Homo sapiens: one gene and its partners. The protein of the gene in region 4 interacts with the protein of the main gene of each other region in a pairwise test. Each region holds a gene or a part of one and is shown on either strand. Other genes may lie near its edges.

The links.
Region 1: the proteins of SAXO4 (region 4) and DTX2 interact in binary tests that used the Homo sapiens proteins (3 or more experiments, as listed by UniProt).
Region 2: the proteins of SAXO4 (region 4) and UNKL interact in binary tests that used the Homo sapiens proteins (3 or more experiments, as listed by UniProt).
Region 3: the proteins of SAXO4 (region 4) and PLEKHN1 interact in binary tests that used the Homo sapiens proteins (3 or more experiments, as listed by UniProt).

What each region holds. Positions count from the first base shown.
Region 1 is NC_000007.14:76,492,698-76,499,715, reverse strand, and holds part of DTX2 (probable E3 ubiquitin-protein ligase DTX2), read right to left. Parts: intron 2,380-7,018; coding exon 2,239-2,379; intron 1-2,238. UniProt on the Homo sapiens protein: Regulator of Notch signaling, a signaling pathway involved in cell-cell communications that regulates a broad spectrum of cell-fate determinations.
Region 2 is NC_000016.10:1,411,695-1,419,567, reverse strand, and holds the start of UNKL (putative E3 ubiquitin-protein ligase UNKL), read left to right. Parts: upstream 1-4,863; 5' UTR 4,864-4,876; coding exon 4,877-4,953; exon of another isoform or gene 4,954-5,116; intron 5,117-5,512; coding exon 5,513-5,722; intron 5,723-7,316; exon of another isoform or gene 7,317-7,639; intron 7,640-7,873. UniProt on the Homo sapiens protein: May participate in a protein complex showing an E3 ligase activity regulated by RAC1. Ubiquitination is directed towards itself and possibly other substrates, such as SMARCD2/BAF60b. Intrinsic E3 ligase activity has not been proven.
Region 3 is NC_000001.11:969,477-976,378, forward strand, and holds the end of PLEKHN1 (pleckstrin homology domain-containing family N member 1), read left to right. Parts: intron 1-800; coding exon 801-947; intron 948-1,044; coding exon 1,045-1,125; intron 1,126-1,209; coding exon 1,210-1,282; coding exon of another isoform or gene 1,283-1,402; coding exon 1,403-1,530; intron 1,531-1,600; coding exon of another isoform or gene 1,601-1,636; coding exon 1,637-1,732; coding exon of another isoform or gene 1,733-1,743; intron 1,744-1,847; coding exon 1,848-1,928; intron 1,929-2,598; coding exon 2,599-2,674; intron 2,675-2,811; coding exon 2,812-2,948; intron 2,949-3,384; coding exon 3,385-3,534; intron 3,535-3,709; coding exon 3,710-3,850; intron 3,851-4,023; coding exon 4,024-4,164; intron 4,165-4,356; coding exon 4,357-4,575; intron 4,576-4,839; coding exon 4,840-4,888; intron 4,889-4,965; coding exon 4,966-5,099; 3' UTR 5,100-6,389; downstream 6,390-6,902. Other genes in the region: PERM1 (PGC-1 and ERR-induced regulator in muscle protein 1), read right to left, coding at 6,696-6,793. UniProt on the Homo sapiens protein: Controls the stability of the leptin mRNA harboring an AU-rich element (ARE) in its 3' UTR, in cooperation with the RNA stabilizer ELAVL1.
Region 4 is NC_000011.10:61,484,102-61,491,119, forward strand, and holds the end of SAXO4 (stabilizer of axonemal microtubules 4), read left to right. Parts: intron 1-586; coding exon 587-715; intron 716-1,236; coding exon 1,237-1,300; intron 1,301-1,697; coding exon 1,698-1,810; intron 1,811-2,242; coding exon 2,243-2,302; intron 2,303-2,422; coding exon 2,423-2,509; intron 2,510-2,846; coding exon 2,847-2,960; intron 2,961-3,044; coding exon 3,045-3,139; intron 3,140-5,680; coding exon 5,681-5,845; intron 5,846-6,399; coding exon 6,400-6,469; 3' UTR 6,470-6,483; intron 6,484-6,712; 3' UTR 6,713-6,827; downstream 6,828-7,018.

The DNA of each region.
Region 1 (7,018 bases), on a different chromosome or scaffold from region 4:
CCTGAGCTGGTGAGGATCGGCGCGGCCCGGGGCGTTCTCTAGGTAGTGGGAGTAGCAGAACCACAGAAGCCAGCAGCCAAGCCCGTGCGGGGGTGAAAGAGGGACGGGGAGCCCAGTGCCACCCGTGGAGGCGCTCCTGACAGGGGCTCCACCCCAAGGTCATGGTGGGGCTGCGGTCGTCCCAGACTCCAGGACCAGAAGGGGCTCTGGTTTGAATCCAAGCTCACGGCCTTCAGGGGCTGCAGAGAATTCTAAGCCTGAGGGCTCACAACTGCACCTGCTGAACTCCCTTTACACCAAAAAGGGCCAGGGAGGGGACAGTTTGGCAGGGAGGTGGCGTGGTGGGGTGGAGGCTGGAGTCGGCACGGTTTGTTTAATTCTAGTTCTCTTGCTGTGAACGAATCATGCCACCTCTGAGCCTCGGTTCCCTGATCTCAAACGGGAAAGACGAATATGTAACCAAGCTGGAATTGCTGTGATGGCATGGCTGCTGTGACCTGGAGGGAAACTGCTGGCAAGACCACACCCCCCAACCCCCATCCACACACCCCACACCTCCACACCTCCTCACACCCTACACCTCCATACACCCCACACAGCTCCACACACCCCACACCTCCACACACCTCACACCTCCACACACCACACACAGCTCCACACACCCACCTCCACACACCTCACACCCCACCTCACACACCCCACACTTCTACACACCCTACACACCTCACCCCTCCACACACCTCACACCTCCATACACCCCACACACCCACCTCCATACACCCCACACCTCCACACACACTCCACACACACTCCACACCTCCATACACCCCACACCTCCACACACCCCACACACCCTCACCTCCACACACCCCACACACCCTCACCTCTACACACCCCACACACCCCACACCTCCACACACCCATACAGACTGCCCGAACCCAAATCCTGTCACGGTGGCGAGAACGCCAGACCAGAACGATGGCCCCCAGCTCAGGGTCGCCCTCCGTGTGGCTGGAATGCCCTACTCAGGCTGAGGGGGGCCTTTTCCTTTGGAAAAGCCTGCCAACTCCAGAGCCATCTCCGGGTGAGCCTGGGCCTCGCCTCTGCCCAGCCCTGGTGAGGCCGGGCACAGCATCCCACCCCCGCCCACCCACCCCAGCCCTTGCAGCTTTTCAGAGCAGAAGGGAGCTTTCCATTAGCCACGTGTCTCAGAAGGGGCCAGCCAGGCGACCCACCAAGAGCGTGTCCTTCCCAGGTAAACCCGAGTGCCACAGAAGGTTGCCAGCCCGGGCTGCCAACGAGTCTGGCTCCTCCCCCAGGGCAGGGGAAGGGCAGGGCGTGCAGAGCCCTGGGCTGGGGGCAGGAGCTCGAGGCCCACCCCTCCCTGAGCCCACCTCCTCGCCTGTGGGCTGGAGGTCGGACACGATCGGAAGCCACCCTTGCCGCATGCCAGGCGCTTCGAGTATTTCCTAGACCTCGCCAAGCCCCTCTGCTAAGCGGAGGCTCCGAGAGGACCTGCTGAGATGACACAGACACTGAGGGCCAGCAGGGCCACGGCCACCCTCCCTGCCCGCCACCACGCCCACTCAAGAGCGTCTGGACTGGCCACAGTCCACACTTCCACAGCCCAGGGGTGGAAGCAGGGCCAGCACCCGCTTGGGAAAGGTTCAGAACTTGACCATCACAGGCTGCTCCGAGCAGGTCTTGCTGTAACTCCCTGGACCTGCTGTGGTCCTAAAGCCCCTTCTTCTGTGGCCATGCAACGAGCAGGGCAGGGGTCACCGAGGGACCCCTCTCAAGCAGCCCACGTGGCGGCCACACAGGGCTGGGGGTCAGGGCAGCAGACCTGGGCAGCAGACCTGGGCCGCTGTCTGGGGGCCTTTCCCGAGACACGTGCTGGCCCTGGCGGAAGGGACGGTTGTCCCCGCATCCTGAGCCGGGCGCCGCCTCTCACCCACAACTTGTTGCTTACAAAAATCACAAAGTCCTCAAGAACAAGCCCCCTCATGCCAGCTGTGACTGGAGGAGAGGAGCTGAACTCTGGGGCTGCGGTGGAAAGTCAGCTTCCAGGGGCCGCCTCTGCTGCCGAGCGGGGGCAGGGAGAAGGGCCACTGAGCCCCTTCCCCCAGGAGTCAGGGAGCAGAGAGAAGGAAGAGGGTCTGTGCAGAAGAGTCAGAGGCAGCGAGGCCGGAAGGAGGCTTAGCAAAGGCCAGAGAGCTTTTGGGAACAAGAACTACCTTTCACGGACATTTTCCTCAATCTCTTAACTGAGCCGTGACTTTTGGAAGCCAGACGGGAGGCGGGAGGGCTGGTGGGCTGGGGTGCGCGGCTAAGACACACAGGGAGTCCAATGGCTGACATCAGAACACTCGTCATGCCTGCACGGGTGTGAGAGCAGACACGCAGAGAGGGAGAGACATTAGAAGACTCCTTCGGCATGTGACGCCAACAAACCCTGCTCAGGCCAAGGATGTGACACCATCAATGGCCACGGGGACGCACAGGTCTCCCTGGGGACTACCCAGGCCAGGAATCAGAGGGTGGGGCAGCCTGGCTCATGGTAGCCCTGGCCCCAGAGCCCACAGGTTTCTATAGGAGCAACAGACAAGCCCGTGCCCTCAGTGTGCAGGTGGGCACCGGGGCAGGACCCGTGACTTCAGGAGAGCAGAGGGCGGAGGACGCCACTCCAGGAAGCCGCCCGGGGCACGGGGTCTCCTGGGTGGGGCTGGCTCCAAGGGCTCAGCTTCCCCAGGAGGCCCTGGGCCCTCCTGGCTTGGAGTTACTAGGCCTCCAGCCTCCACTGGGTGCTGTGTGTGCTCCATGCCCCTCCTGGCTGATCTGGGTGCCAGGGCCTTCAGCGACAGCGCTGGGGTAGGCGGGCAGGAACGTGGCCCCTGGGCCTGCTCCCACACTGCAGCATCCCCATACTGTGAGGGCTGGGCTGCAGCAAGGCCCCAGGCTGTGGCTCTGGCGCCCTCGGGCAAGGGTGGGCCTGTGGCCAGCAGCTATGCTGGGACAGACCGGCCACTCTTTCCAGAGCTCACCACTGCCGGATGCCTGCAGGGAACCCCACACTTGCCCTGGGGGACTCTCCTCTGACACTGCTTCCTTCGTGCTCCCTGATGACCCAGCGCTTCCTGGGACACAGCGTGTCCTGCTGGACGAACCCGTTCCTGCCACACCCTCGGCCTACCCCACTTTCCATAGTGCCAGCTCCCCGGTCCTCCCTGTCATCGGTCAGTTAGGTCAAAAGCACCTCCTCTCCAGAGAAAGGGGAAGCCTAGAGCTTCTTAGCCATCTCTTAAGGTGGCTTCCAGGGTCTGCAGAACCTGGCTCAGGAGCTGGGCACAGCCGGCTGCCGGGGGAGTTGGTAGAAATCCCAGTCCTCCTGGACCCCACTCCCCATCCAGGAACAGATGGCGTGACTCAGGGGTGAAGGGCGGCCAGGCCAGCCACTGCGCCCCCACTAGAAGAACAAAGCTTCTCAACCCGGCACATGTGCCTGGCTGTGGGGACAGAAGCGGAGACCAGCCACCAGCCTGGGCAGCAGAGCCGAGGTGGGCAGGGTGAGTTGCAGTGGCCCTCAGCAGGAGACACCAAAGCGTGCATCAGAGGACAGAGGTTTGAGCCCGGGAGCTCAATGCCCCCAACATCCCAAGCTTGTTCCTGGGCTCAAATGCGGTTCCTGTGGGAACTGAATGTCGGGTGGAGAGAAGGACAAGCGGGCGCGGGTGGCAGAGAGATGAGAGAGGACAAGGACAGGTGCAGTTTTCCTCAAGAGAATCTGGTGCCTCTGCGCTGCCCACGTCGTCTGGGAGGACCAAAGGCCAGGACACGTCTCCCTACCCAGGGTTCTCCGGCAACACTGCCTCAGCGGGCAGGCCTTCCCTGAACACTGCCTGACGGGGCCTGTCCCTCCAAGCCTCCCGCCCCACCCTGCTGGACTCCTGCTTTGCACTCCCCTCTGTTTCTATGGACTGTCTTCCCTCAGCACGAGTTCCACGAGGTCCCACCCGTAGCTGCATCTCCAGCACCCCGCTGGGGCAGTGCCTGATCCCTGGGAAGCCTGCAGCCCTCTGTGTTTGCTGAGGAATGAAGACATCCTTGGGCCACCACCAGCCCCCAGGAGGCCGCATGAGTGACACACGTGTCCTTTTCAATGCAGGACCCACTCCCCTGAATTCAAGTCACAAACACACAAGTTTCAACCCAGAAGCCTGGAGAGGAGGAGGGCTAGGGACAGCCCCCCAAACTCCTGACAGCCCCCAAAACACCTGAATAACTCGGAGGGCCACAGCCTTTTTCTCCACCCATCTGGGAGGATTCCCGCTGTCAGAGCCCTGAAGAGTGAAGCCCCCACTCACTGATTCTCACTTCCAATTTGCAGACACCCCTCCTTCTGACACCCAGGGCCAGGGCTGAGATCCAAGCCTCTCCTCTGTGCGCTCTGACCTCCCCAGCCTGGGTTCGAGCCCAGTGCCAGCCCTCACCAGCTGAGCAGTCCTGGGCAGGCTGCTGACACCCATCCCTGCCCCAGGCAGCAGTGTGAGCTGTGGATGGACCGCTGCTGTGACCAGGTGAGGGGTGGAGACCCTGGCTCCAGCCTCACAGTCCCTGCCCCCACCCGATAGAGGGACTGGGCTATGCCACAGCCAGGGGAGCTGTCACCTGGAGGCACTGTCACCTGGAAGCAGTGCCTCCAGCACTCAGTCCTTCCAAAGCATGACCTCCTGGTTATAAACCTCTCTGCAAAAAGCCTGTGCGCAAACGCTCGTCTCCGCAGCCGGGCATGGTATAATTCCTCAACCCACAAGCACACCAGGGTGACAGGACACTGCTCTCCAGCTCTGGCTCCGGGGTGCTGGCCAGGCTCCTCTCATTCCCTGCTCCCCTAGACAATGCTCCCCCAGTAGGTACCAACACTGGGCCTTGAATTGGGGGAGGCAGGAGTCTACACAGCCTCCAGGCTCTCCTATTTCCTTAGGCCTGAACCAGCTTCCCGAATCTATTTCCCCACAAGTAAAATGGATGTTAAAATACCTGCTTTAGCTCCAGGATTGCTCTGAGAGCAACGGGGACAGACAACAGGATGGACAATTTGGGACACAGCCTGGACAGGACCTTCAGCCTCAAGAGCAGAGGAAGGGGGCAGGTGCTAACTCCACACCCAGAGCACTTAGATCTGTGTCATGGCCTCAGAGGTCGCTCACTGTCAGGCCTGGCCACGAAGGCTTGCGAGAGCCCCAGAACTGGAAGGAGCTGGGCCATGAGGAACCGTGTGGGGGCCCCGTCTGTTTACCCACAACCTGTCTCCAATGCCACCACGGCCGCACATGCACACACGGTACACTGTGATTTCCCTACGGCGCCGCACGGTGACTTCAGTGGGCAGGGACTTTCTGGCCAGTGTGTCTTGCTCATTCTGTCTCCCCTGCCCCACTCCAGCTCCTCTCCCTCCTGCCCCCACCTCTCTGGCCGCTCCTTCATTTTCTCTTCAGTCCTGCCCACGGTCTCTGTGGCACACACGCTCCCACGAGGGGTCAGGGGCACCCCATTCCACCCAAGACTGCTCTTCTGAGGCCCACAGCCAAATCCCACTGCCCCGGAACAGCTCCAACGGCCACTCCACAGCCATCACCCCCTCCCAACCTCCCCCTAGACTCAGCAGCACTGAACCGTCATAGGCAAGAAGGCCCGGGGCTGTGTCTCAGCTCTGCCAAGGGCTGGCAGAGAATTTTTAAATTCTCCGAGCCTCAGTTTCCTCTAATGAAAATGGGAACAAAAGCCTCCACCTCAGTGATTTAAGGACGAAATGAATTCACACACGCCAAGCCCCAGGCTGCTCCTCAGTTGTGACTGGCTGCACTCCAGCAGGCCTCAGTCTACCCCCAATCCCCCCTCACAACCCCCCGCCTGACGGCTCATGCCTCTGAATGTTTCAAGCCAAACCTCCCCCTCCACTCCACTGCCTCGAAGCTGGTCAGGCCTTGGCTGGTGCCCCCAGGTCTGAGGTCAGGCTCTGCACCAGCCGCCCTACCTCCAGGCCTGTCCCCTCTCAGCCACTATGACAGCAACTCCCCTAAAACACCAACTCATTATTGAATTCCGCCACATCACCCTGTGAACAACGATGGCGCCATCCACCTCCTTACATACCTCGAACTTTCCAGAAGTTAGAAAATAACCTCAGCTGGGCGTGGCAGCTCATGACTGGAATCCCAGCACTTTGGGAGGCCAAGGCATGAAGACGGCTTGAGCCTGGGAGTTCAAGACCAGCCTGGGCAACATAGTGAGACCCTGTCTCTACAAAAAATAAAAAACTTCCCTGGCATGGTGGCATGTGTCTGTAATCCCAGCTACTCAGGAGGCTGAGGCAGAAGGATCGCTTCAGCCCAGGGGTTGGAGGCTGCAGTGAGCTATGACTACACCACTGCACACCAGCCTGGGGAACAGAGCAAGATCCTGTCTCTTATAACAAGAAAAAAAAAATGGCCAGGCACGGTGGCTCATGCCTGTAATCCCAGCACTTTGGGAGGCCGAGGCGGATGGATCACTTGAGGTCAGGAGTTCAAGACCAGACTGGTCAACATGGCGAAACCCCATCTCTACTAAAAATACAAAAATTGCCCGGGCGTGGTGGCATGCACCTGTAATCCCAGCTACTCGGGAGGCTGAGGCAGGAGAATTGCTTGAACCTGGGAGGCAGAGGTTGCAGTGAGCCGAGATCCCACCACTGCACTCCAGCCTGGGCGAGAGAGACTCCATCTCAAAAAAAGAAAAAAGAAAAAAAATCCTGCCACCTGTGGAGCTTCTGAAAACCCTGCTAGCCAGGCTGCTAAAACAGAATGGGTGTGGGGGCCAGCAGTAGGTATTTTTAAGGATCCTTAAGGTGAAAGGATTGCTTGAGCCCAGGAGTTCAAGACTTCAGTGAGCTGGGTTAGCGCCACTGCACTCCAGCCTGGGTGACAGAGCGAGACTCTTGTCTCACAAAAAACCAAACCAAACCCAAAACAGTTC
Region 2 (7,873 bases), on a different chromosome or scaffold from region 4:
AGGCTGAGGCGGGCGGATCACGAGGTCAGGAGATCGAGACCATCCTGGCCAACACGGTGAAACCCTGTGTCTACTAAAAAATACAAAAAATTAGCCGGGCGTGGTGGCGGGCCCCTGGAGTCCCAGCTACTCCGGAGGCTGAGGCAGGAGAATGGCGTGAACCCTGGAGGCGAAGCTTGCAGTGAGTCGAGATCGCGCCACTGCACTCCAGCCTGCACGACAAAGCGAGACTCCGTCTCAAAAAAAAAAAAAAAGTTTCGTTTTCCTTTTTTTTTTTTTTTCCAGAGTGGGAACTGAGGAAAGAAACCTACATATATATTACCGAATAGTACCAGAAATGAGGAACTTTTGCAGTTTTCTGCAAAACTTTTTAAGCAAGGCAACCATTTTCTGAGTAGAATACAACTAGTGAGTATTTCTTTTCACAAATGATGGGCACTATTTTGGGTTACCTAAGTGATTGTTTTTTGTTTTTTTGTTTTGTTTTGTTTTGTTTTTATTTTTGAGACAGGGTCTCACTCTGTCTCCCAGACTGGAGTGCAGTGGCACAATTTTGGCTCACTGCAACCTCTTGTCTCCTGGGTTCAAGCAGTTCTTCTGCCTCAGCCTCCCGAGTAGCTAGAACTACAGGCTTGTGCCACCACACCCGGATAATTTTTAAATTTTCAGTAGAGACGGGCTTTTGGCATGTTGGCCAGGCTGGTCTCAAACTCCTGACTTCAAGTGATCTCTCCTCCTCGGCCTCTCACAGTGCTGGGATTACAGATGGGAGCCACCGCGCCCGGCCCCAGATTGTTTTCTCTTTTTTTTTTTGAGATTGAGTCTTGCTCTGTCACCTAGGCTAGAGTACAGTGGCTCCATCTTGGCTCACTGCAACCTCCACCTCCTGGGTTCAAGCGACTCTCCTGCCTCAGCCTCCAGGGTAGCTGGGATTACAGGCACGCACCGCCACACCCGTCTAATTTTTGTATTTTTAGTAGAGACGGGGTTTCGCCATGTTGGCCAGGCTGGTCTCAGATTCCTGACCTCAAGTGATCTGCCCGCCTTGGCCTCCCAAAGTTCTGGGATTATAGGCATGAGCCACTGCGCCCGGTCAATTGTTTTCATACATATATACCTATACATGTTTCAGAGACATGCAGCAGATCCCAAGTGCCTCCAGGGCAGCGATCTGGGAGGGCTTTTCCAGTTGCTGACCTCACACCTGTGCCGTAGACAGACCCAAGGCCAGCTGGGGATGGTGGGCGGATCTTCCCTACTCCTGGAGTTTTCAAAGGATGGCAACAGAGCAGGTTGATAGGTGAACAGTTAATTCAGTACAGTTAGTATTTATTATTATTTTTTGAGATGGAGTCTTGCTCTGTTGCCCAGGCTGGAGTGCAATGGTACAGTCTTGGCTCACTGCAACCTCCGCCTCCGGGGTTCAAGCAATTCTCCCGCCCCAGCCTCCTGAGTAGCTGGGATTACAGGCGTGCACCACCATGCCCGGCTAATTTTTCTATTTTTAGTAGAGACAGGGTTTCACCATGTTGGCCAGGCTTGAACTCCTGACCTTAGGCAATCTGCCCACCTCGGCCTCCCAAAGTGCTGGGATTACAGGCAGGAGCCACTGCGCCCAGTTGTATTTAACTATTTTTGTAGTGTGTTTGTCTTGTTTTCCCAACTGGGCTGTAGCTTTTATTTTCCCCAGGGTACATGGCACACTGACCTCCCCAGATAAGCATTTGAGAGGGAGACCATTGTAAGCATGCTAGAACAGACGCAGCTGCAGCGATTCCTAAGATGACAAATGGCTGGGCAGGAGGTGGAAATTGTTTTTTGTTTTTTTGTTTTTTTTTTGAGACGGAGTCTCGCTCTGTCACCCAGGCTTGAGTGTGGTGGCACGATCGCGGCTCACAGCAACCTCTGCCTCCCGGGTTCAAGCAATTCTCCTGCCTCAGCCTCCTGAGTAGCTGGGATTACAGGCGTGCACCACTGCGCCCAGCAATTTTTTTTTGTATTTTCAGTAGAAACGGGGTTTCACCATGTTGGCCAGGCTGGTCTTGAACTCCTGACCTCAGGTAATCCACCCACCTTGGCCTCCCAAAGTGTTAGGATTACAGGTGTGAGCCACTGCACCCAGCCGGAAATTGTTTTAAAACAAAAATTCTTGAACGGGCGCAGTGGCTCATGCCTGTAATCCCAGCACCTTGGGAGGCCGAGGCGGGCGGATCATAAGGTCAGGAGATCGAGACCATCCTGGCTAACATGGTGAAACCCCGTCTCTACTAAAAATAGAAAAAATTAGCCAGGCGTGGTGGCGGGCGCCTGTAGTCCCAGCTACTCAGGAGGCTGAGGCAGGAGAATGGCTTGAACCCGGGAGGTGGAGCTTGCAGTGAGCTGAGATCATGCCACTGCACTCCAGGCTGGGCGACAGAGTGAGACTCTGTCTCAGAAAAAAAAAAAAAAAAAAAAATTCTTTCAAGGAAGATGTTAACCAAACCATCTCAAAAACAAAAACAAAAAATTCTTTCAAGGAAGGTGTTAACCAAATGGTCACGTCTAAGCTGATGAACTGTCTATATAACTCAGGTACCACCCTAGACTTTAAAGAACATTTCTTCCAAAGCATGAAAAAACATGATACTTTCAATCCTTAAGTCTTACATCAGTTTCCTTTGATTTCTTCAAGGAAGATGCCCCCAGGGTGTGGAGGAACAGCAGGTGTCTTCACTCATACCTTTACAGCAAAGATCCCCAAATTCCTAAACCCTAAGGCTCCAAATCTGTTTCCTAGCTTTAGCAGGCTCCCTAGACACCTCTGCTGGACAGCTCACAGGCTCCTTAAACTCCAAAATGGAATTCATCTCCCCCAAACCTGTTTCTTCTCCCTTGCTCTGTATCCTTGCAAGCGAGAGACCTGGGCGTCACCCTAGACTCCCTTTCCATTCCTAGCACCTTGGGAGTCTTCAAGATCTGTTTATTCGTCTCTGAAGAATTTGCAGGCCCTGCCCTTCCTGCTTGACTTCATTTTCCTGCTTGACTTCACTTGAAAATATGTTCTTCATTATCATTTTAAGATTTAAATGTAATGTTTGTAGAGATAATTCATTAAGAAAATGTGATCCTGGCTGGCGCGGTAGCTCACGCCTGTAATCCCAGCACTTTGGGAGGCTGAGGCAGGTGGATCACCTGAGGTCGGGAGTTCGAGATCAGCCTAACTAATGTGGAGAAACCCCGTCTCTACGAAAAATAAATTAGCTGGGCGCGGTGGTGCATGCCTGTAATCGCAGCTACTCAGGAGGCTGAGGTAGGAGAATTCCTTGAACCTAGGAGGCGGAGGTTGCAACAGTGAGCCGAGATCGTGCCATTGCACTCCACTCTGGGCAACAAGAGCAAAACTCCTTCCTCCCCCCGCCCCCCGCCAAAAGAAAAAGAAAATGTGAACCTATGAAGAAATTTATCCTACCAGCAAATGATAGTTTTTGTTGTTTTACAGTATTAATATTAAAAAAAACCCTGAGATACTTGGAACAAATCTGTAGGAAGTGATTTGCTTTCAACCTAAATGGGCCCATTTTTCTTTTCGTTTTTTTTTTTTTTTTTTTTTTTTTTTTTTGAGACGGAGTCTCGCTCTGTTGCCCAGGCTGGAGTGCAGTGGCGCGATCTCGGCTCACTGCAAGCTCCGCCTCCTGGGTTCAAGTGATTCTCCTGCCTTAGCCTCCTGAGTAGCTGGGACTACAGGTGCCCACCACCACGCCCGGGTAATTTTTTTTTTTTTTTTTGTATTTTTAGTAGAGACGGGGTTTCACCGTGTTAGCCAGGATGGTCTCGATCTTCTGACCTCGTGATCCGCCCACCTCGGCCTCTCAAAGTGCAGGGATTATAGGCGTGAGCCACCGCGCCCGGCCAATGGGCACATTTTTCATATCACTAAAAATTTCTTTTTTATTTTTTGAGACAGGGTGTTACTCTGTCACCCAGGCTGGAGTGCAGTGGCGCAATCTCGGCTCACTACTAAACCTCCGCCTCCCGGGTTCACGCCATTCTCCTGCCTCAGCCTCCGGAGTAGCAGGAATTACAGGCGCAAGCCACCACACCCCACTAATATTTTTGTATGTTTAGTAGAGACGGGGTTTCACTGTTGGCCAAGCTGTTGTCAAACTCCCGAACTCAGCTGATCCGCCGGCCTCGGCCTCCCAAAGTGCTGGGATTACAGGCGTGAGACACCGCGCCCGGCCTCCTACCACTAAAAATTCTTCGGAAGCACTGTTTCAAATCACGCAGAGCACTTAGAGTTTTCCCTTTTCTCAGCTACTGCGCTGTTGGGGGAAGGGGGACCTCAAGTGTTTGCAAAATAACTGTGATAATTACCTTTGTAGATAAATCTCTGAGTATAAGTTTTTGAGGTCAAGGTTCGAAATGGAACAAATTCCTTTCTACAAAGGCCAGGACCCCTTGGCCCTTCCGCCCGGTGCCTGGCTCCCCCTGACATCAGCCTCTTGGTTCGTTTGTGGAAGAGCAGCTCTATTGAGATACAACTCTTGTGATTAATTCATGTAAAATACACGGTTATGTCGGGTCATGTCACAGCAGGGGCGACCATCGCGGGTCCCACGCGCGGCCCCGGGCAGGACCAGCGTCCCGGGCCGGGGGCTGCAGGGCAGGGCAGGGCAGGGCAGGGCAGGGCAGGGCAGGGCAGGGCAGGGCGGGGCGCGGGGCTGGGGCGGGGTCTGCGGGCCGGGGGCGGGGCTGCGGGGGGCGCGGGGCTGGGGCGGGGCCGGGGTCTGCGGGCTGGGGGCGGGGCCGCGGGGGGCGTGGCCGCGGGGGCGCGCGGGGATATCCGGGGGCGGGGGCGCCGGCGCGGCGCATGCGCGCTGCATTGTTTTGACTGAAAATGCCGTCGGTTTCGAAAGCGGCGGCAGCGGCGCTGAGCGGGTCCCCCCCGCAGACTGAGAAGCCGACCCACTACAGGTCAGCGCCCGTCCGGCCTGCGGCCCCCCGCCCGCGCCCGGTGCAGCTCGGAGCCTCCCGCCGGGGCTCGCGCCGCCTCCGCCGCCCCCGCGCCCCCCGGCCTCCGCGCAGCGCCTGGGCTGGGGGGGCCACGACCCTCTGCTCTCGGCGGCCTCCGCCTGAGGTCGGAGCGCGGCGCCCATGGTCTGGGATGGCACCTGGTTCCGGGGTCCACGCGCCTCTGGGGAGGGAGGAACGCCCCGGGGTTGGGGGTTGCGCCTGGGCTCGGGGACCGGGACCCTCTGCTCCGGCTGCCGACCGTGAGGTCACAGCGGGTCGCCCAGGGTCCGGGGTGGCGCTTGGGCTTGGGGACCAGGGTCAGCGCCTGGGCTACGAGGTCGGGTGAGGGTCGCGTCTGGAGTCGGGATGGGGGTGGGCGCAGCGCCTGGGGCCCGCCGGGAATGTGAGTACGGGTCGACCCTGGGTTGAGGCTCCTGAGGCCGGTGGGTCCCGCCGCCCACGAGTCCGAGTCCCTGGAGGTGCTGCCGGAAGCGAGCCGCGGCGCTGTCTGTGTTTGTAGGTACCTGAAGGAGTTCAGGACGGAGCAGTGCCCCCTGTTTTCACAGCACAAGTGCGCGCAGCACCGGCCGTTCACCTGCTTCCACTGGCACTTCCTCAACCAGCGGCGCCGCAGGCCCCTCCGCAGGCGCGACGGCACCTTCAACTACAGCCCCGACGTGTACTGCTCCAAGTACAACGAAGCCACCGGCGTGTGCCCCGACGGCGACGAGTAAGCGGCCGCGAGGGGGCGCCGCTGCCTGGGCGGAGGTGGGGGGCCTCCACCCGGGGATGCGGCCGGGACCCTCAGCGGACGCCTTAGTGTCCATACCTGGCCCCTGCAGAGGGAGTCGTAATTATACGCTGAAATTTTCTAGTGACCAGGGATGCTGGGGCGGCATTTCCTATTCTCAGGCCAGTTCCCGAGGGATTATGTGTGTTTTAGGGGTAACCCTTGTGTGACTCAAACCAATTTTGCTTCACCTCCCACTTTTTTTTGTTTGTTTTTTGAGACGGAGTTTCACTCTTGTTGCTCTGGCTGGAGTGCAATGGCATGATCTCGGCTCACTGCAGCCTCTACCTCCCAGGTTCAAGTGATTCTCCTGCCTCAGCCTCCGGAGTAGCTGGGATTACAGGCATGTGCCACCATGCCCAGCTAATTTTTTATTTTTAGTAGAGACAGGGTTTCTCCATGTTGGTTAGGCTTGTCTCGAACTCCCAACCTCAGGTGATCCACCCACCTCGGCCTCCCAAAGTGCTGGGATGACAGGCATGAGCCACCGTACCCGGCCCCACTTTTTTTTTTTTTTTTTTTTTTTTTTTTTTTTTTTTTTTGAGACAGGGTCTTGCTCTGTCGCTGGGGCTGGAGTGCAATGATAGGATACGGCTCACTGCAGCCACCAACTCCTAGGCTCAAGTGATCTTCCCTTCTCAGCCTCCCAAGTAGCTGGGACTACAGGCTCATGCCATGCCAGCTAATTTTGCATAGTTTTTGTAGGGATGGGGTCTCACTACATTGCCCAGGCTGGTCTTGAACTTCTGGGCTCAAGCAATCCTCCTGCTTCAGCCTCCCAAAGTGCTGGGATTCCAGGTGTGAGCCACTGTGCCTAGCTGTTTCCCACTCTGATTTGACACAGTTCCTGCATGAGAACCAACCTCTGGCCAAGTGCCTTGTTTTGTGTTTCTATAGAGACAGGGTTCTTGCTGTAGCCTGGTCTGGTCTCAACCTCCTGGGCACAGCGATCCTCCCTCCTTGGCCTCCCAAAGTACTGGGATTCCAGGCATGATCCACTGCGCCCGGCCAGGTTTTGAAGCGTTTTGTAGTGGTCGGTTGCTTTCCACACAGAGAGCTTGTTAGAATATTCACGCTGTAGAATATATCTGGGATGTTTCGTCTCTTGATGTTTACGTATTTATTTTAATTTTAAGACAGTAAAGTTTTTATGTGCAGGCTCATTTATGTAGCATCGAGACTGAGTCTCGCTCTGTCACCCAGGTTGGAGTGCAGTGACTTGATCTTGGCTCACGGCAACCTCTGCCTTGTGCAGGTTTAAGTGACCTGCCTCAGCCTCCTGAATAGCTGGGATTACAGGCACCCGCCACCACGCCTAGCTAAGTTTTTGTATTTTTAATAGAGTTGAGGTTTCGCCATGTTGGCGAGGCTGGTCTCGAACTCCTGACCTCAGGTGATTCTCCCTCCTTGGCCTCCCAAAGTGCTGGGATTACAGGCGTGAGCCACCACGCCTGGCCCCTATGTAGCACTTTTAAAGTTAAGAAATCAAGGTTTTGTTTTGGTTGATTTTTTTCTTTTTTTACAAGGTTCCTAATAGTGTTATGAACAGATGTCTTTATTCTGAAGTATGCAAAATGGGAAAACAGGGAAAATACAAGTCAGATTATATATTCACAGACTGGCGGGAGGTGGTATCAGGTTCTACTTGCTTCCTGTGGGCTGCTGGCGGAGGGTGGAGGGCGGAGGGTGGTCCATTCCTGCCTAGGGGTGAGACAGCAGCAGTTGCGGTCTTGAAGTCTTCATCCCCTGATCTTTTGGAAGGAGCTGATTCTCCAGGGACCTTCCTGTTGAAGGCTGCTTTCAGCACGGAGATCCTTGTGAAGTCTGTTTTCCTTTATTTTTTCAACAGTGCTTAGCCTAGGCGATAAATTAAAAAAAATTTTTTTTAAGGACGCTAGAAACTTTAAATACTGAAATGTTTTTAATTGTACATTAGTTAAATAGTGTTTGTTTTGTTTTTGTTTTGAGACGAAGTCTCTGTCACCCAGGCTGGAGTGCAGTGGCGCCATCTCAGCTCACTGCAACCTCCGCCTCCCAGGTTCAAGCGATTCTCCTGCCTCAGCCTCCCGAGTAGCTGGGATTACAGGCGCG
Region 3 (6,902 bases), on a different chromosome or scaffold from region 4:
TGTGTGCATGCATGTGTGTGCATGTGTGTATAGGTGTGCATGTGTATGTGTGCACGTGTGTATGTGCACGTGTGTATGTGTATACATGTGTATGGGTGTATTTGCGTGTGGATATGTATGCATGTATGCACGTGTGTGCATATCTGTGTATGTGCAACTGTGTATGTGTGCACGTGTGTATCCATGCATATGTGTGCGTGTGTGTACATGTGTGTATAAGTGCGTATGTGTGTTCCCGTGTGTATGCATCTGTGTCTGTATTGTGTGGCATGTATGTGTCTATTGTGTGTGTATGCATGTGTGCGTGTATGCATTTATACATGTGTATGTGTGCGCATATATGGATGCATGCATGTTGCCTGCATGTGCACGTATCGGGTGTGTGTGCGTGTACGTGTACACGAATATGCATGTATGCATATATGTATGCACGTGTGTGTAAATTCTGCCGTGACTGTTTTCCTGTGGAAAGGCTGAGTGTGCAGGTTCTGTGCCTGTGGGGGGCTGTTCTTCACGTATGTGTTGTGTGGCTGTGCACAGGTTCTGTGCCTGTGGGGGGCTGTTCTTCACGTATGTGTTGTGTGGCTGTGCACAGGTTCTGTGCCTGTGGGGGGCTGTTCTTCACGTATGTGTTGTGTGGCTGTGCACAGGTTCTGTGCCTGTGGGGGGCTGTTCTTCACATATGTGTTGTGTGGCTATGCACAGGCAGACCATGCTATAGTCCTGTAGCTGTGTGGATGCGAGCGGAGGGGGTGGGGGGCCCAGGGGAGGCCCCCTCCCCTGAGCTCTACTCCTCCTAGGACATCCTGGACCTGGAGAACCAGCGAGAAAACCTGGAGCAGCCATTCCTGAGTGTGTTCAAGAAGGGGCGGCGGAGGGTGCCTGTGAGGAACCTGGGAAAAGTTGTGCATTACGCCAAGGTCCAGCTGCGGTTCCAGCACAGCCAGGTGGGGGCCGGGCTGGGTGGAGCACGCTAAGGGTGCAGCATCCCCATCAGCCTGGGGCTCCCCAGACTCCGCACTGACGACCCTGCTCCCCGCGCAGGATGTCAGCGACTGCTACCTGGAGCTATTCCCCGCCCACCTGTACTTCCAGGCCCACGGCTCGGAAGGACTCACATTTCAGGTGAGGCGGTGGGCAATGGGGTGGGGCCATGGCCGCCCTTCCCTCCATGGATCCCTGAAGCTCCTCCTACCCTGTGCCTGGCAGGGGCTGTTACCGCTGACGGAGCTGAGTGTCTGCCCGCTCGAGGGGTCCCGAGAGCACGCCTTCCAGATCACAGGTGTTTGGGATGCTTCCCGGGCCCCCAGAGGCACTCCTGACCCAGGACTTGGAGAGGGGCCTGCCCTGTGGCTGCGGAGCACGTGTGTGTATGTGTGTGCCCTCTCTGCCCTGCCCGCAGGCCCACTGCCCGCACCCCTCCTGGTGCTCTGCCCCAGCCGGGCCGAGCTGGACCGCTGGCTTTACCACCTGGAGAAGCAGACGGCCCTCCTCGGGGGGCCGCGGCGCTGCCACTCGGCACCCCCACAGGTCAGTGCCGGGGACCCCACCCCCCTCCCCACCCTGATCCTCGCAGCCGGCTCTGACCTCCTCCTCACAGGGGTCCTGCGGAGACGAACTCCCCTGGACTTTGCAGCGCCGTCTAACCCGGCTGCGGACGGCGTCAGGGCACGAACCCGGCGGCAGTGCTGTCTGTGCCTCGAGGGTCAAGCTGCAGCACCTGCCCGCACAGGTGGGTGGGAGGTGCGTGGGGCTGTAGGGGGATGGGAGGGGTGCATGGTGGTGGGCAGGGCGGTGCAACAGCAGCTCAGTTCCCTCATCGCCTGACCCCACCCCCACCCACCCAGGAGCAGTGGGACCGGCTCTTGGTCCTGTACCCAACGTCCTTGGCCATTTTCTCCGAGGAGCTGGACGGGCTTTGCTTCAAGGTGGGCCCCTCCCCACTGTGGGCCCGCCCCAGGGAGGCAGCTGTGTGGGGGTGGGAGGGGGCAGCCATGCAGGAGGAACCTGTATTTCGGGGCTTGTTGAGACAGAGCGCAGGGCCCTGCCCACCCAGCCCGCGGTCCTGGTCAGTCTGGTCTCCGCTGTGACATGGAGGAGCCCCTGCCCGCCCTGAGGTTCTCACCCTGAGGTTCTTGACCGTCACCCTGGGGCGGGCAGCATGGGGCTGAGAGCCCCTCCCGGGGACTCCCTTGTGTGTGCCTGCCCGTGAGGCGTGTGTGTGCACACGTGCGTGTGCGTGTGTCCTCCAGGGCGGGCTCCGGGAAGGGGGTGTGCACTCACGGTAACCTTCAGTCACTGAGGAACAAACACAGGGCCCTCCCCATGGTTCACCCGGCCCAACTTCTTCTCTGGGGACCCCAAGAGGCCAGTCCTGTGGCTTTGTGTGTCTGCCCCTAGCCGGCGAAGGCCCCCGCGCCAGGGTTGGTGGTAGCCCCAGGAGACATGGGACCCACTGGCCTCCCTCAGGGTGGTGGCCTCGGTGCCCAGCTCTCCAAGTACCCAGCCAAGCTCTGGAGGGCAAGAGGGTGGGATGAGGCCAGGCGGGGCCCCGGGGCTGCCCCTACAAAGGCCTGGCCCTCAATCTCTGCTCCGCAGGGGGAGCTCCCACTCCGTGCCGTCCACATCAACCTGGAGGAGAAGGAGAAGCAGATCCGCTCCTTCCTGATTGAAGGTAGGGCCCTGACCCTGGTTCTGCCTCCCGCCTGGCCAGGCCATGGTGGGGCGGGAGCCTGGGGGACGCCCGACTCTTTAGTGGGGGCGCTGAGGGGTGCACCCCCCCGCCAGCCCCTCACAGCATCTGTATGCCAGGCCCCCTCATCAACACCATCCGCGTGGTGTGCGCCAGCTACGAGGACTACGGTCACTGGCTGCTGTGCCTTCGCGCTGTCACCCACAGGGAGGGGGCCCCGCCGCTGCCTGGTGCCGAGAGCTTCCCAGGGTCGCAGGTGAGGGGTCAATAGGCCCCACAGCCCAGGTCCTGGGCAGTGGTAAAAAGGGGGCAGCAGACCGGGCGTGGTGGCGCACGCCTGTAATCCCAGCATTTTAGGAGGCTGAGGCGGGCGGATCATTTGAGGTCAGGGGTTCGAGATCAGCCTGACCGACGTGGAGAAACCCTGTCTCTATTAAAAATACAAAAAAATTAGCCGGGCATGGCGGTACATCCCTGTAACCCCAGCTACTCAGGAGGCTGAGGCAGGAGAATCGCTTGACCAGGAGGCGGAGGTTGCAGTGAGCCGAGATCGTGCCACTGTACTGCAGCCTGGGCGACAGAATAAGACTTCGTCCCAAAAAGATAAAAGGGGGGACAGCACGGTGGGTCCAGGCAGGGGCGGGTGGGGAGGGGGTCCAGCCCTCACTCACCCCCACTCACTGCCCATCCAGGTTATGGGCAGTGGCCGAGGCTCACTCTCCTCAGGCGGACAGACCAGCTGGGACTCGGGGTGCTTGGCGCCCCCCTCCACCCGCACCAGCCACTCCCTGCCTGAGTCCTCAGTGCCATCCACCGTGGGCTGCTCCTCCCAGCACACACCGGTGAGCGCTTACGGGGTGGCAGACGAAAGTGGGGCAGAAGGCTGTCGGGTAGGTGTGTGTTGGGGACCCTGGTTCCTCAGGGGAACTCAGACTGGAGGGAGCCCCTTGCAGCCTCAGAGAGTTGCACGGGAGAGGGGCCAAAGGGCTCTTCCTGGAAGGTTTGTGGTCCCCACAGGACCAGGCCAACTCTGACCGTGCCAGCATTGGCCGACGGAGGACCGAGCTGAGACGCAGTGGCAGCAGCCGGTCACCCGGGAGCAAGGCCCGGGCAGAGGGCCGCGGCCCTGTCACCCCACTGCACCTGGACCTGACCCAGGTGGGCCCAGCACACCCACACAGCCCCTGGCCTGGTTCCCACCGTTCCGCACCACTGGTCTCTGTCTCTGGGCCCAGTTGTCCTGGAGCCACCCAGAGGCCTCTTGCACAGAGAAGGGGTGGCCTAGGCTGTTTCTAGCCGAGAAGCCCATTTCTCCCACCTCTGCCCTGCAGCTGCACAGGCTGAGCCTGGAGAGCAGCCCAGATGCCCCTGACCACACTTCGGAAACATCACACTCGCCCCTCTATGCCGACCCCTACACACCACCCGCCACCTCCCACCGCAGGGTCACAGATGTCCGGGGCCTGGAGGAGGTCAGGCCCCTGCTGGGTGACAGAAAGGGTGGGAGGTGCCTGCAGCCTGAGGCTGGGGAGGTCTAGACCGTGCGTCTCACCCTGGGGTCTGGGGCTGCCCCAAGCCTGAGGTCTGTTCAGGCTCTGATGGGAGGTTGAGGTTCTGGGGGCCCCTGGCTGCCACCCAGGCCCCAGCCCTGGCTCTCCCTGCAGTTCCTCAGTGCCATGCAGAGTGCACGTGGACCCACGCCCTCGAGCCCACTCCCCTCGGTGCCTGTGTCTGTGCCTGCCTCTGACCCTCGCTCCTGCTCCTCCGGCCCCGCTGGCCCCTACTTGCTCTCCAAGAAGGGAGCCCTGCAGTCCAGAGCCGCTCAGAGACACCGGGGCTCAGCCAAGGATGGGGGGCCGCAGCCCCCAGACGCCCCTCAGCTTGTGAGTAGCAGCCCCCACGCCCGTGTGCCCCGGGCTCCGGGCTGGCCGGGGGTCTGGTGTGGGGCCTCTTGGGACTCTGAGGGAGCAGGGAGGGAAACAGGAGGACGGGGGCAGATGGAGGCCAGGGGGGCCAGTAGGGAGTTGGGGAGATGGGACTGGGGAGGGAGAGCAGGGGGACATGGGGGGCTGCACAGTGACAGGCCGCCTCCAAGCTCCCTGCCTGGGGCTGTGCCCGGCTCTCAGACTTGCGGTTTGGGGTTCCAGGTCTCCTCTGCCAGGGAAGGTTCGCCCGAACCCTGGCTGCCTCTGACAGGTGAGTAAGGATCCTGCCTCCTGAGGTGAGTGCCTGTTGCCTCCCACAGGCTGACACATCTCTGCCTTCCCTACCAGATGGTCGGTCCCCCAGGAGGAGCCGGGACCCCGGCTACGACCACCTCTGGGACGAGACTTTGTCTTCCTCCCACCAGAAGTGCCCCCAGCTTGGAGGGCCTGAGGCCAGTGGGGGGCTTGTGCAGTGGATCTGATGGCCGCGGTGAGGTGGGTTCTCAGGACCACCCTCGCCAAGCTCCAGGGTACCTGCCCCTCTAACCCACTTCAAATTACAAGTCAGGGTCTGAACCCAGTGTGATGGGGGGAGTCTCTGGGGCCCTGAGTTCAGAGCCCGTCCCTCAGCTCCTGTTCCTTGGTGCCAGCAGCTGGGGCAGGGAAGGGTGGGAGGGGCCCCATCCAAAGGATGCCCTGGCCAGCGAGGCTGGGTCACAGGTCAGGGAGGTCCTGGCCGTCCACAGGGTCGGCCCTCAGCTCAGCCCGCCAGGAGTCAGGGAGGAGACTCGCTGGGAGTGGGAGGGCAGCACGGGCGTGAAGGTCGGAGGACAGAGAAAGGTCAGCAGGGTCAGAGTATGTGAGGTCAGAGGGCATGAGGGTCACAGGTCAGCAAGGTGTGAGGAGCACAAGCCAGGGTGCCCCGAGGAGGAGGGTGGGTGGGTCCTTGTGTGGCCTGGCGCGCACCACAGGGCAGCACGGGAGACGTTGACACCACCGGACGAGAAAGAAAAAAGAGAGAAGAGAGAGAGGAGAAGAGAGAAAAGAAGAGAAGAGAGAAGAGAAGAGAAGGAAAGAGAGAGAGAGAATAAGAAAAGGAAGAAAGAAAAAGAAAAGATAGAATTTTATTGGTGCTGCATCCATGTGTTCTCTGCTCAGCAGCCAGGGTCTCCCACAGTCTTGAGGACCCCCACCCAGCACCCAGCCAGGCAGCCCCCTTCCTCTGCCACCTCGGGCCCCTCACCGACCTTCCCACCTCATCTCTGACTCCTCTTGGCTGTGGGTCCCCAGCTGCCCCACAGGAGCCCCCGGGACAACCCCAGGAGCCCAGCCCTCCATCTGAGGCCACCGAATTCTCCCTCTGCACCTGCACCCAGGGCTCCCGGGGAGGGGCTCGCGGCTCTGCCACAGACCCCCACCCTGCAGGGGCTGCTGCACTGGGGAGGGGCAGGCAGAGCCTTCGCTGTCTCAGGCCAGAGCCCGCAGAGGCCTTGGCCACAGTCCTTTGAGGATCAAGAGTGATGGGCCTTGGAGCCCTTGCCAGCCCAGCCCACCTGTGAGGAGGCTGCCCATCCCCTCTTTGAGGCCACCCTGTGTCCTCTCCCCTGCCTCTGCCCAGAGCTCCAGCCGGAGTGTCTTGCTGCTCAGACCCCTCCGAGGTCCAAGTCCTGTCCTGCCACTCAGCTCCCCCTGCACCCCAGAAGAAACGCAGGGTGCGGTTGCATTTGATTTCAGATAAACAACAACTTCTTAGTAAAATGACCTCCCCACTATTGCCTGTCTGAAATTAACCGAATGCCCTGTGTTCTCATCTGTGAATCTGGCCACCCTCCTACCCAGCCACCTGCCTGCCCTCCACCCACCCAGACTTTAGCACCTCCCTCCCAGGCGTGGGGAGTGGCCGTGGTCACTGGCTGGATCCTCAGGTGAGTCGGAGGGAGCAGCACCAGGACACGCCCCCCTCCTGGACGCGGTAGAAGAGAGGGGTCAGAGGGCCCGGGCGAGGGCGGCACCTCGTCCTGCCCTGGGCGCCTGTGGTCGTCTCCTCATCCTGCATCTCCCTGGCCCGGGCCTGGCTCCTAGGAGCTGGGGCTGGGGCTGTGGCTGCGGCGCCCTTGCCCCACCTGCCGGCGGAAGTAGCGGATGGCAGAGATGGTGCCGACGTTGGCCAGCAAGGCTGCAAGAGAAGCACAGGCTCTTCTGAGGGCCAGCCTGGCTGTCGGCACCGTCTGCCCGCAAGACCCAGCCCTCAAAGGGCGGGCAAGGTCGGTGCGGCCAGGGCCGCA
Region 4 (7,018 bases):
GTGTGGTGGCTTGCATCTGTAGTCCCAGCTACTTGGGAGGCTGAGGCACAAGAATTGATTGAACTCAGGAGGTGGAGTTTGCAGGAAGCTGAGATCATGCCACTGCACTCCAGCCTGGGCAACAGAGCGAGACTCTGTCTCAAAAAATGTAAGTAATAAATAAATTAGAAGCGAAGGAGTTGCAACTGCAAATCGGGAGGGTCGGGAAAGAGCTTGCTATGGAGACACTGGACAAAAACTTGAGGGAGGCCAGCTCCTCCAGTTGCAGCTGTCTGAGGGAGGAGTGGTCCAGGCAGTGCCAACAGCAAGTGCAAAGGCCTCAAGGTGGGAACAGAAAGGAGACAAGCAGCTAGAGCAGGGTGAGGCACTCAGGTCCTTGCAGGCCACCAGGAGGACGTGGAATTCCCTGCGAGTGTGATGGGAAGGCTGCAGGGCTCTAAGCAGAGAGGGGACATGCAGGTTTCATTGTAAAAGGACCCCCTCTGGCTGCTCTGCAGATACTGCGCTCTGTAAAGGTCAAGGGCAGAAGCAGAGTCAGGGAGTGACTGCCGCCCCCTCACTTGTAATTGGCCCTTCTTCCTCCCAGGTCCGGAAGGTCCATTTCGACACCCAGGAGCACGGGCCTCAGGCCATCACGGGGCTGGAGCCCAGGGAAGTGCCTCTGCTCCACCAGCAGCAGGGCCAGGACCCGCTGGAGCGGGAGAACTTCCGACATGTGAGTGGCAGCCCAGCTAAGGGCTTCGGGGTGGGGCAGAGGGGCCACACCCGCCTCTTCCTCCCACCTCAAGACAAGTATTGCACTGACTCACCCAAGAAGCCAGCTCAGGGTGGGCTCAGGGCGCCAAGAAAGATGGGAGAGCAAAGGATTTGATATTGGCTATTTCCAAAATAGCCTCAATGTGGCTTCTCGCGATTTAACGCTACTCCTCTTCCCCCAGCCTTCCTCCTCCTGCTCACGGCCCCTCCTGGTCTCGGTCCCTCTGGGCCCCCCACTCATTACCAGGAGTCTGGTGTGGGGTGTGACGTGGTATTCATAGTCACAGGGGAACTGTGCTTTGTGCTGAAATTCCTGGCCCTGCGATGTCCCACCCCACAGAGACTTGTGTCCAGGGTGCTGTACTGGCCCACACAGGCTTCCTCAGAGCACAGAGAACCGAGGCGCCACTCCACCGCCGCCACACGCCTTCGGGGCCCTGGTGGGTCAGTGCCCCCACTCCTCCAACCTCTCTGTTCCAGGGCCCACGCTTCATGACGTCGGAGTACAATTCCAAGTATCTCAGGGACCCTCTAGACCAGCCAGGTAGGCCCTGTCTGAACTCACAGCTCCCTTCCCATCTTCCAATCCACCTCCCTACTTGCTACCCCAGGGGCCCTGGAGCTGGCCTAGGACTGAGAAGGCACCAGTGGAAGAAAGAAGGATGCACAGGTGGCTGGAGGGAAGCGCCTCTCCCGGGCTGACCTCAGTACCTTGGGCCTCTCAGGAGGGTGGCTTGGCCGGTGCATGCCCTTCCTGCTGCTCCCTCTCCTGTCCTCCGGCCTGGACTCTGGAATCCTCACCCTGCCACCCACGATCCTCATGGCGCAGGTCTCCAGGATCTTGGGATCCACTCCCTCTGCACCTGCTGGGACACTGAGCCTCTGGAGGACACATGGGTGGGCCAGGTGGCCTGGCAGCACACAGGGCATTTCTTTTGCAGATTTCTTGCAGAAGAAATCGATCGGCGCAAAGGAGGGGAGTGGCTTCACCAAACAGTCCCACCAGAGCCCCATTGTCTTCCAACCGCCCTCACAGGCCCTCCCTGGGGACCCTGTAAGTCGGCTGGGCTCCTGCTAGAACTTTAGGGGGCTTGAAGCCCTCCAGTCTCAGGGTTTCTAGCTTTCCTAAAGAATGTGAGCTGCAGAGCCCTTTGTTCAAACACAAGACGAAAGAGCTTAGGTGAAAACCACTGCTTTGGTCCAAGTCCCCCATTTATAGATGAGAAGACTGAGGTCCAAAGAGATGAAGGAGGTGTAGCCAATGTCATTCAGAGTTCAGACAAGAGCCCTGGCCTGCTGGTCCCATTCAGAGTCATGCCTTCCCCTGTCTTCTCCCCAAACACTTCCCTTTTCTCAGTGATGCCCATTTGAGCTGAGTCCTCCTCTGTGCTCAGCACAGCAGTGGCCTGGAGGCAGAGTGGGTGGGAGCCACCAGGGGCCCAGGCTGCCTCTGCGGGGCTGACATCCTCTGTGGGCCTATTTCCAGGCCCTCCTCCCAGGCCAGAGTGTCACCAAGTCAGACTTCCTCCCCAAGACTCACCTACATGTAAGCTGAGCTAGGGGGAGGCTGGGGACCGCCTGGCGGGGAGCAGTTAGAACATGGCTCTGGAAGGTGGTGGGGGAGGCAGCCACATCCTGGTGCCAGTGGCTGCTTTGCTCCCTCCAGGGAGATGAGTTCCTACCTGTGTTGGCCAGAGGCTCCAAGCGGGAAACAGCCTTCAGCCGAGGGAATGAAAGGATTCTGAACCCCAGAGTGAGTGGCCTTGGCGTCTTGCTCAGAGAAGGGAGAAGACAGGGAGGTTTCTGGGAAGAGGTGGCATTTGGGTCAGGCATTGAAGAATGAGAAGAATTAGGATATTTAGGGATGTGGAGGTAGGCCCTCAGGTGGAGGGTGAAGAGAGCCTGGGCCTTCCTGGGGGCTGGAAGATGAGGGGTGTGGTCTGAAATAGAATTGGCTGGAAGGGGAAGGGAGGGTCGCTGGGGCTGTGGACAGGTCACAGCTGTGTGTGCCTCTGCCTGCTCCCCTCTCCATCCCTGCTGCCTCAGGCTGGCCACCTCAGCCTCCCTTCTGGTGGTTCTGTGCCCTGCAGGTGCCCCCTCCCTGCCCAGAACCCAGCAGCGTGAGTCACCAGCAGTTTCAGCCACTTCATCGGATGCAACAGACAAACGTTGCCCTGCTTGGCCGGGAGACTGTGGGGAAAAAGGTGAGACTTGCTACACCTAGCCTCCACCCCCAAATCCCCACCCCTTCTGACTTGACAATTCCCCTGTCTACCCCTCTTGTGCAGGAGCCCACAGGGTTCAGCCTTAACAACCCCATGTATGTCCGGAGCCCCTGTGATCCTGACAGGGATCAGCGATACCTGACCACCTACAACCAAGGGTGAGGTCCGCTTCCTGGTCCAAAGCTGAAACCCATTTGAGAAACAGACTGAGACTGGGATAAGTAATGAGCTCACAGCCTCGTGGAGAAGATCAATGCTGAGTGAATATGGGTTCCCCAGAAGCATACCCTAAGCCAAGGATTGGAGTGCAAGCATGTTATCAGGCAGTTATTAGGCGTGTGGGAGTGGAGAAGAGGGATGAGGGAGGGAAGGCAGCAATAATGAGCATGTTACTAGGCCAGCTATCCCACTGGGAAAACTCTAGAAAACAGTGTAAAGCACACAACTCAGAACTACCCCAGTCAAAGGTGAGAGAGCTGGGGTATTTATACCCCCACATCCATCGGTCATTGGTTAAAGGCTATCCCCAGGGCAACATTAAAGCCCAGGTGCCTCCTTGCTCAGGCAAAGCAGCTTCTAGCATCCCAAGGGTAGCTTTCCCACAGAGATGCAGGGCATTGGTGGCCAGGCTGGTGGGCATGGAAAGAACAGGGCAGTGCGAGGGAGTCTGGAGCAGCAGCATCTGCTAAGACATTCCATCCAGCCAATGGTTGGTGGGCTCGATGCTCCCTCAGAAGGTAAATTCTGTGCTGTGCATTCCCTGGGTTAGGAGTGACTGTCCTGGGCATCAGGGAGGGCTTCCAGGAAGGAGGTGGCCCCAGAGCCATGGGGAAGCCTCCTGGGGCCAGGACTGGGTGGGGAAAGCATTATAGGAGTGGTATAAAGGAAGTGTAATTCTTCTTCTTCTTTTTTTTTTTTTTTTGAGATGGAGTTTCACTCTGTCGCCCAGGCTGGAGTGCAATGGCGTGATCTCAGCTCACCGCAACCTTCGCCTCATGGGTTCAAGTGATCCTCCTGTCTCACCCTCCTAAATAGCTGGGATTACAGGCATGTGCCACCATGCCCAGCTAATTTTTGTATTTTTAGTAGAGATGGGGTTTCGCCATGTTGGCCCGGCTGGTCTTGAACTCCTGACCTCAAGTGATCTGCCTGCTTTGGCCTCCCAAAGTGCTGGGATAACAGGCATGAGCCACCGTGTCCTGCCAAGAAGTACAATTCCTTTTTTTTTTTTTTTTTTTTTAAGATGGAGTCTCTCTCTGTCGTCCAGGCTGGAGTGCAGTGGTGCGATCTCGGCTCACTGCAAACCCCGCCTCCCGGGTTCACGCCATTCTCCTGCCTCAGCCTCCCGAGTAGCTGGGACTACAGGCGCCTGCCACCACGCCCGGCTACATTTTTGTATTTTTAGTAGAGACAGGGTTTCACTGTGTTAGCCAGGATGGTCTTGATCTCCTGACCTCGTGATCTGCCCGCCTCCAGGAAGTATAATTCTTAGGACAAACTCCGAGCCAGGAAGCGCAAGCTTTCCTCACAACATCAGTCACCTGTGTCCACCCTGCTTCCTCTCCAACTCCTGGTCCTTCAAGGTGTCCCTGCCACCTCTCTGTCTCCTCCCCCTGCCCCACCCCCTGCTCCGGGATACCTCCCAGAATCCATTCATGGAATAGACTTTAACTGAGCCCTGACTGGGTGCCAAGCCCTGCTCCAGGCCCTGGGAATGTGTGTGCAGCTCCTGCCCTACGGAGCTCAGACCTCTGCATGGGAGGAGACATGCATGTGGCTGCAGCCAGTTAGCGAGAGCTGTTAGGTAATGCGCAAAGAGAAAGGGATCGCGAGGGCTGCAGTGCGCACGGGTCGGATTTGAAATCGGTGGCCTTGAGCAGGTGACGTTTGAACTGAGACTGAAAAGAGGGGAGGGCGGTGTCCTGGAGGAGCAACAGAGAGTCTGAGCTGGAAGGGCCGTTTGTTGTCCTCTGGCCTAAACCCTGAGGCTCAGAGGGGAGGAGCAGAGCTTCCGCCCGCACAGCAGACTCAGCACAGTGGCCGCTCCAGTTCCCACGGAGGTGGGGGAGGGGCAACGATGTTCTGACCCCTTCTTAGGCAAACACCTCCTCCTGTGGCTCTGGCAGAGACCAGCTCCAGTCCTGTCTGCTGGGTCCTTCCAGCCTGTCGTGTCCTGTTGTGTCCTGAGCTCCTGCTGGCTGTCAGGCACGCTTGCTGGTGCTTCCTGGTGCGCGCAGAGCCCCGGGATTGTCATCACTGATTCCTGCATTGATCTGTCTGCACCCCCTCTTCATAAGTTCAAGGGTGGGACCCCCTTCTTACTTGTCTTTGCACCCTCTGGACCTGGCTGTGCTCAGTGAAATGGAAGGAAATGGAAATGAAATGGAAGGAAAGTTAAGTGCCTAGAGAAGTGGATGAGACGGGGTCCCCACCCCAAGGTACTGGCAGGCCAGGGACAGGGGCATCACTGAAACTGTCCTTTAACACTCCAAAGAGTGTTTCAGCGTCAGGTGGAGGGGAGGGCAGGCTTTTTGAGTAAGAGTTCCCCCAGTGGACGTGGGCTTAGGGAGAGCTAGACGAGGACAGCATGAGCAAAGGTGGGGAGGCTGGGCGATCTGAGGGTCGATGGAGAAGGGCAGCAGGGGTTGCAGAGGTGGGCAGAGTCCAGCTTCCAGCCAAGGACCCCTCCTCTCCTCCAGGTACTTTGAGAACATCCCCAAGGGTCTAGACCAGGAAGGCTGGACTCGAGGTGGCATCCAGCCCCAGATGCCAGGAGGCTACGCCCTCAGCCAGCCGGTCAGCTGCATGGAGGCCACCCCCAACCCCATGGAGAGCCTGCGGCACCTGCATCCCCACGTGGGAAGGTGGCACCACCCCCAGCTCTGTTCTTTCTCCCTACCCCTCATCCAGGCCGTGTGCCAGGCCTTTCCCTTCCTCTCCTCTCTTGCTGTCAGTCCGGTTCATTCCTATGAGAGGCCCATCTCCTCTGGCTGGCTCTGGTGTCCCTTCTCCTGCTAGCACAGGCTCCTCCCCTCCTCTCCTTCCAGTGACCCCTCCCTCAGATGGCTCCTCCTCCCTCTCCTGCCCCTGTTCCCCAGGCCCGGTGGACTGGATGGGGAGGATCTGAGCAAGGGGCTCTGGGGTGGTTCAGATCCAGAGGGGGATGCGGGGACGGATCCAGAGATGAATGGACTGTGGTTCGGCCTCACTCAGCTCCTTTCTGCTCAATTCAATTCCTCAGAAATTACATTTATATCAACAATGGCCCAGAGTTGGCAGGCAAAGAATGTTTGTGGCTTGGCTGCCCTGGCTGAACCCTGGCTATGCTCTCTCAGGGAGGGTCAGGCAGAAGACAAGAAGACAAGGTCCATGCCCTGCCTGCCAACACCCCCAACACTCTCCTCTTGCCTCCCTGCAGAACCCTGACCTCAGCTGACCCCTTCTACCAGAACACACCTCACAGCAGCCGCTGCGTGGCACACAGCTGAGCCCTGAGCCCTTGGTAAGGGGCTGGGGATCCCCACACTCAGCTGCTCTGGTTGTGTGGGCAACCGTTATGGGCCAGCCCTGCCTCTCAAGCCCTGGGTTAAGCAAGTCCTGCCTGGGGACCCCCCTTCCAAGTGGGGGGTGACAGATCAGGGGGCCTCTCAGAACCCCTTCTCTGCCAGGCAAGCACACAGAACCACCCCAGAGCCCCTTGCTCAGGCCTCGCCTCTGCTTCTCCTCTACAGGTTTGTCAATCCTAGGGGACAGGAGCCAGGCTACTGTCTGTACCCCCACTCCATCCCCCAGGGGAACACCCCTGCCCAGCTACTTTCCTAATGAAATAAAGAGCATTGAAGCAGAGAAGTGTGACATCACTATCAGGGTGGCTGGAAAAAGGAGGGGTGAGCTGGGGCGGTGGGTGCAGGGGTGGAGGAGCTAGGGCCAGATTTGGAGTCGGAAGGGCTCGGCTGGAACCTCTGAGGAACCATGACACGATGGATAGGCACTTCATTCTCCACGCTCAGTTTCTTGTCCTGTAAAGGGGTCCTCTA